Linked DNA regions of Homo sapiens: region 2 is linked to region 1. The links come from fine-mapping of genetic effects on gene expression. A gene starts in region 1. The other region holds a variant in brackets. All regions are shown on one strand. Distances are from middle to middle.

Region 1 (3,019 bases):
GCATAAGCTCCCAAGGCCTTCCTAGAAACTGAGCAGATGCCAGCACCGTGCTTCCTGTAAATCCTGAAGAACTGTGAGCCAATCAAACTTCTTTTCTGATAAATTACCCAGTCTCAGGTATTTCTTTATAGTCATACAAGAACAGCCTATTACAATATATGGGTATATACATGAATGACAAAGAATGTCTCCCTGATCAGACTCTGGACAGCCTCCTCCGAGCTCTCTGCACGACTGGGCCCAACCTGGGCATTCCTTCCTCTGTTCCTGCAGAGTCTAGTTTTAGCAAGAATCCTGCTAAGTCAGTTTAATCCCAATTCCCCACCTCAGGTGTCTGAATACCCTCCATATCTGACCAAATTCCAACACCTGCTCCACCCCACCCCCATCCCCGATGTGGATCAACTTGGCCCACCCTCAGCAGGAATCCTGTTAGGTCAGGGAAGCCAGAACCCCCACTTGATGTCCCCTTCTCAATGACTTTCCATCCACCGTCCCCCACACTGCTCCTTGGCTATAAATCCCCACTTTTCCTTATTATTTTCGGACCCCAATCTCTCTCCCCTGCTGCAAAACCTCAGTGCAGTCCCTTACATCTAAGGAAATGGTTCTGAATAAAAGTCTGTCTTACCGTTTTTAAAACGTCAGAATGTTTTCAGATACGTGTGTGTATATATCTCCATATCTGTAAATATATATAAATATAGATATAGATATCTCCGAAGAGAAGGTTTTCCAATGTGCACTTTTTCTTCTTGCACATTGCGATCTTAACCCTCAAGCACATCTGGAAAAAGCTTCCATGAGGATACAGCCTGGGATGGATTTGTGGGCGAGGTGTAGACCACGATACCGGGTAACGTGCCCTGTGTTTTCTGGACACAGAACTGTAAGATTTCAAAAAGACCCAATCAATGATTCTAACCCAACTCTACATATATTTACTCAAACACAGTATTCCTCCCTGACTAGTGGTTAACGGACTTGCTTTAGGCGGCCCCAGAGGCGGTGGCCAGTTTAGCCACCTCCCGAGGAACCTGCGCAGTCCCGACGCTCACCAAGCGCTTTCCTGGCGGTTACAGGGTTGGGGGCAGCGCAGAACCCGCTTCTGCCCTTATCAGGAGCCCGGACCTGAGCTGGACTCCACCACCTCGTCCCCACCCACCCTGGAAGCCAGAAACCCCAAGCATCCTCCCTCCCTCCCCTGCTGGCCACTACGAATAAACCAGACATACAATTCGCGCCTAACGGCTTAGCCAGAAATGCCACCCGCAGTCGGGCCCCGGGCCGGAAACCTCCCCGACGCGGGGCCGCGTGCAGGGGAAGGGGCGGGCGCAGGCTGCGGGGTCGGCACGGAAGATGCACGCGAGGCTCCTGGGGCTCTCGGCCCTGCTGCAGGCGGCCGAGCAGAGCGCGCGTGAGTGCGGCAGCCCGAGGCTGTGCTCACCCCTGCAGCCCCTAACCCCACCCCGGCGCCGGGAGCCGCACAGGCTGCCTATGCCCGGGCGGGCACTGCCCCAGCCTGCGCCCAGCACTGCGCGCCGGTGACGCACGGTGGTGGCCATCCCACCTGCAGAGCACGTCCTCCCGTCCTTAGTAGATGCCCACGCATGCACCATCCCCCCAAGGATGCATGATTTTCCTCCACCCATGCTCGGTTCCCCCCCCTCCCGACTGGTGCTTGACTTCCTCCCGCCCATGCACGATCCCCCCGCCCCACGCATGCAAGATCCCCTCGCAGAAGCAGGGGAGATGTATCCGCCCTTCCTTCCATCACAAGCTTTGCAAAGTGCTGCGATGCCAAGATGTGCTGAGCGCAAGTCTGGGGGCGCCCGGGCTCTCCCCCGACCCCCGGCCGTCCAGGGGGACCCTGCGACTTGGAGGCCGCTCGCAGAAGGGGTGGCGGGGGGAGGGGGACAGGGCTCCGCATCCACGCGGCCCTGTAGGACGGCGACTCCGCTTCGGGGTTTAGGACGGGGCGGGACGCGGCCCTTCGAGGCCACCTCCGTCGCAGGGGGAACCCAGAGCCCGCCAGCCGCGGCGGAGCAAGATGGCCCCATTTTTCGCGCCCTTCTGGTTTGAACGCGTAACTCCTTCAGTGCCGGGAGGAGCGTCTCCGCCCACTTCCGCCGGGCTCCCTGCGGAAGCTTTTTCCCGGGCAGAGTCCCTGGGGTGGAAGAGGGGGTACCCTGGGAACGCCGCCTTGGGACTTTTCCCTGAGTTCGCGGGCGTCCCCGCAGGTCCCGCTGCTTCCGAGGCGCGCCGAGCAGGACGCACACGGAGGACGCGCAAGCGCCCTGGCTCCGCGCCCCGGACTGGAAGGGCTGAGACAGGACCTGCGGGGGTCGGCACCCACCCCAGGTGTCCTCCCTTGCCCTCCAGCTGGGCACGGACTGGGTGTCAGCATTCCCCAGCCCTGCAGCACCGAAGGCTTTTCGTGCAAGGGAGGCTGCCGCAGGACGCTCGGGGTGGTGACAGCCGGACCCAGCCTGGGCGCTAAGGGCTGCCTGAGCCCGGACCCCGCGGTCTAGAGCTGCAGCGTCTGCAGCTGTACCTCAGGGCAGTTTTCCCAGTTTCCCTAAAATCCGCGGCTTGTGTTCATTCATCCACTTAGAACTTTACTATTGGAAAACCTAAGTAACAGTTGTGTGAAACGATGCCTGTGTGCGGTGCCTCTACCAGCGCACCGCCTCCAAGATCAGCCTCAGACAACCCTGAGGAGGCCGTGCTAGGAGTATTGGGGAGGCCCAGAGTTCCAGGCCAGGGAGTTCCCCATGTGAAAGTAGGAGAAAAGGGACCCCACAGAGAGAGCTGTGACCCCACAGGGACTAACGGTTTCGTAGTGCGGAGTTACTGACTGCGGAGTGCACATTCTCTCTCCACTGCGTAACCACCATCAAAAACAAACAAGCAAACAAACCAGAGAGGAGGTTTCATCGTTCTCGAGGATGCACAAGATGCTAGGCGCTTCACACATGTCGTATATTGCCCAACAGCTCTGGAAAGCCCTGACAATGTC
Region 2 (2,793 bases), 31 kb before region 1:
CCCTGCCTTTATCTCTTCTGTTAGATCACGGACTGATGGTAATTTATGAACAAAAGCCACTTGAGGCTTTTTTATTATTAGTCCCAAATCTTGGAAGACAACAGGTTTTTAAAAGAAATTTAGTGAGCTGTCATGTGGGTGCCCCTTTGTTCTGTTCTGGACAGGCATGAAAGCTGATTCACTAACTTCTTATACCATTCACATTTTTGATCAAGGTTGTTTTATGCCACGAAAGCCTGAGAACCCACAAATATCAGCAGAAAAATACACGCTTGTCACAATCAGTCAAAATACAAAACAGTGCTATAACAAAAATTGCTCAAAATACTACTCTTCCAATCAAATCTACTATTGGCCTGTTTTTCCCAGTATACTTCTCCAATCTGAGTCGGCACATAAATTTTTTGTTTCATCATTGCACTCATCGGGTATATGGCATTTTGATTCCTGCTGTTTCTGTACACACAGTGCCCTGGTGGCTTCATCTCATCCACCGTGGTCCTCTTTAAGGACTGCACCATGCTGGGCCCAGCCTATTCACCAAGGGGGCAGCATGGAGTTCTCTCTTCTCTCTTAGTTGCATCCATCTGGCTTTAGCTTAAGGAGCTGCAGAACTCCCCCTCCTAAGGGAAAAAGGGGGTGCTTTAAGATCCATGGAGGGGTGTTTTTGAATGGCCTTAGTAGATGCTGTGCACAGAAGACACAGCCTCAGGAAAGGCTGCTGGGTTCTTCACATCCTTAAGGAACAGAAAGGGAAAAGTTTCCATTTAGAGCAGTCCTTGCCCAGAACATGTCAAACCTGAATGCTGAGATTCAACCCAATTTCTTCCAACCAGCCCAGACTGAACGGTGACTCAGAACTCAGAGTGACTCCGACAGTGCCTCATTCACCTAAAGGAAGACTCCTTTCTGAAAAATGAACAGCGTAGAATGTTTTAACCAAATGTGTGCAGACTAAAGACCCTGTTGCTGCCTAGTCAGGGTGCAGCCCTCCACATTCACTGGCATAGTCTCCAAGTGCAAGCACCCGCCATTCTTTACAAGTGAAACCTGATCTTCCCCCTCCGTGAACCACAC[A/G]GGGACTTGATTCGCTTGTTCCCTTGTTGACAGGCAAATACACTGGTGCCCACTGGGGATCACCCCGCTGGTCATCATCCACAAGACCTGGAAGAGGAGGAGGAGACTCCCATAGCAGGAGGGGTTACAGGCTCTTCTCTAGAGGAAAGCCACCTGGCTCTCGCTGGAGCTCACCCAGGTGCAGGAGGACCAGAGGTCCACCATGGGGCTGGGGACTGACCCCCCATCTCAGCCTCACCTTACTTGGTTCTCCCCTGCCTCCCTTGCTGCCCTGTTGTGGTGGGCCAGGTCTCACTAATGTAGGCCTCCCTTACAACTGTCCCAGCACTGACTGAGCAGCTACATTAAACATTAAAGCTAATTGAGCCAGTGCCCTTATACAAAGGCTGGAATGTAACAACGAGCCCACCAAAAGTTTTCTCTAGGCTTTTCGTGGGCCTTGGAGCATGACAAGATAATGAAGGGATTCTTAACAGGACCTTCAAGTTTAAACAAGTTTTACTGGGGGTCTGAATAAACCCCCCAGGCCTCCATAGACAAGTTTGTTGGGGTCTACAGAACTCCCCAAACCTTTATGATTCATCAGGAGACAAGATAAGGGTAATCACCCCACCACCTAGACCCATTTAGATTAAGTAAATTTACTGAGGATCCAGAAGAAAGTCTTCAGGATGGAGACCTTAGTTATAGATTAAAAGAAGTTAATCACTTATGTCTTTCGATGAGTGCACACTTACATGTAGACCTACAGTTTAGAAGGTATATAAGCTCTGGAAAACTGTGTAATTTTGAGTTGGTCTGGTTATCATTTCCAGGCCTTCTTCCTGTAACTGGTTACAGAAATAAAAACTCTCTTCCTCCCCAGTTCATTGGCCTCTCATTATTGGGCCACAAGAAATAGCAGCCTGACCCACAGTTTGGTCCAGGAACACTGTGACCTGGCAGACCCATTCCTTGAAGCATGTCCCACAGCCAGGTGACCTGGGCACACACCCAGGAAAAGCACTTTCTCCTAGGCTGGCCCCAGGAAGACGCACCCACACTGGCCCCCTCCCCAGCTGGCCAGGGGTCCTGCTGTGTGTTTGATTATTATTATTTTTGTTTTTTTCTGTTTTTGTTTTTTGAGATGGAGTCTTGCTCTGTCACCAGGCTGGAGTGCAGTGGCATGATCTCGGCTCACTGCAACCTCCTTCTCCCAGGTTCAAGCAATTCTCCTGCCTCAGCCTCCCAAGCAGCTGAAATCACATGCGTCTGTCATCACGCCCAGCTAATTTTTATATTTTTAGTAGAGACAGGGTTTCACCATGTTGGCCAGGATGGTCTCGATCTCTTGACCTTGTGATCCACCCTCCTCGGACTCCCAAAGTGCTGGGATTACAGGCGTGAGTCACTGTGCCCGGCCCGTGTTTGATTATTGTAACTGACATCAGACCAGACATGCAGAGAGGTGTCATCACTGCCCCCTCCCAGCTCCCTGGACTCATTCTACCTGTAGAGACCAGACACCTACGGAGGTAAGTAAAGAGTCTTGCTTAATTGGGTTTCTGATTTTGTTTTTGTTTCAGTTTTGTTTTGCTGTTTTCTAAAAACCAGGTTCACTGATAAACACGCGGGAACTGCCGAAATGATTGCTCCTGGGCTTAGTCAAGTCTGACCTGACTGGTCTTCTTCAGACAAGTCACAAAAACAGGTCTCCTGTAAGGGACTCTAAAGATA

Alleles and levels. Positions count from the first base shown, and alleles are read on the strand shown. Sizes are in standard deviations (SD) of each study's normalised expression.
As copies of A replace G in region 2, the expression in pancreas of the gene that starts at base 1,299 in region 1 goes down (small effect, 0.29 SD a copy in GTEx).

The links. PIP is the estimated chance that this variant, and not a neighbour inherited with it, causes the effect.
Region 2: its variant is the best candidate, but not a certain one, in a credible set for the expression of GS1-24F4.2 in pancreas (GTEx, PIP 0.53).

What each region holds. Positions count from the first base shown.
Region 1 is chr8:6,833,834-6,836,852 of GRCh38, reverse strand. GS1-24F4.2 (a long non-coding RNA gene) reads right to left here and starts at 1,299. Exons shown (of 3, transcript NR_045217.1): 1 at 1,236-1,299; 2 at 632-887. It overlaps XKR5 (XK related 5), which reads left to right and starts at 1,329. Exons shown (of 7, transcript NM_207411.5): 1 at 1,329-1,417. The coding sequence starts at 1,360. RefSeq lists an enhancer at 2,079-2,947.
Region 2 is chr8:6,865,339-6,868,131 of GRCh38, reverse strand. No RefSeq gene overlaps it. Among named protein-coding and RNA genes, the nearest start is that of DEFB1, 11 kb to the left of the region's middle. The variant A/G (reference allele first, on the strand shown) is at 1,078.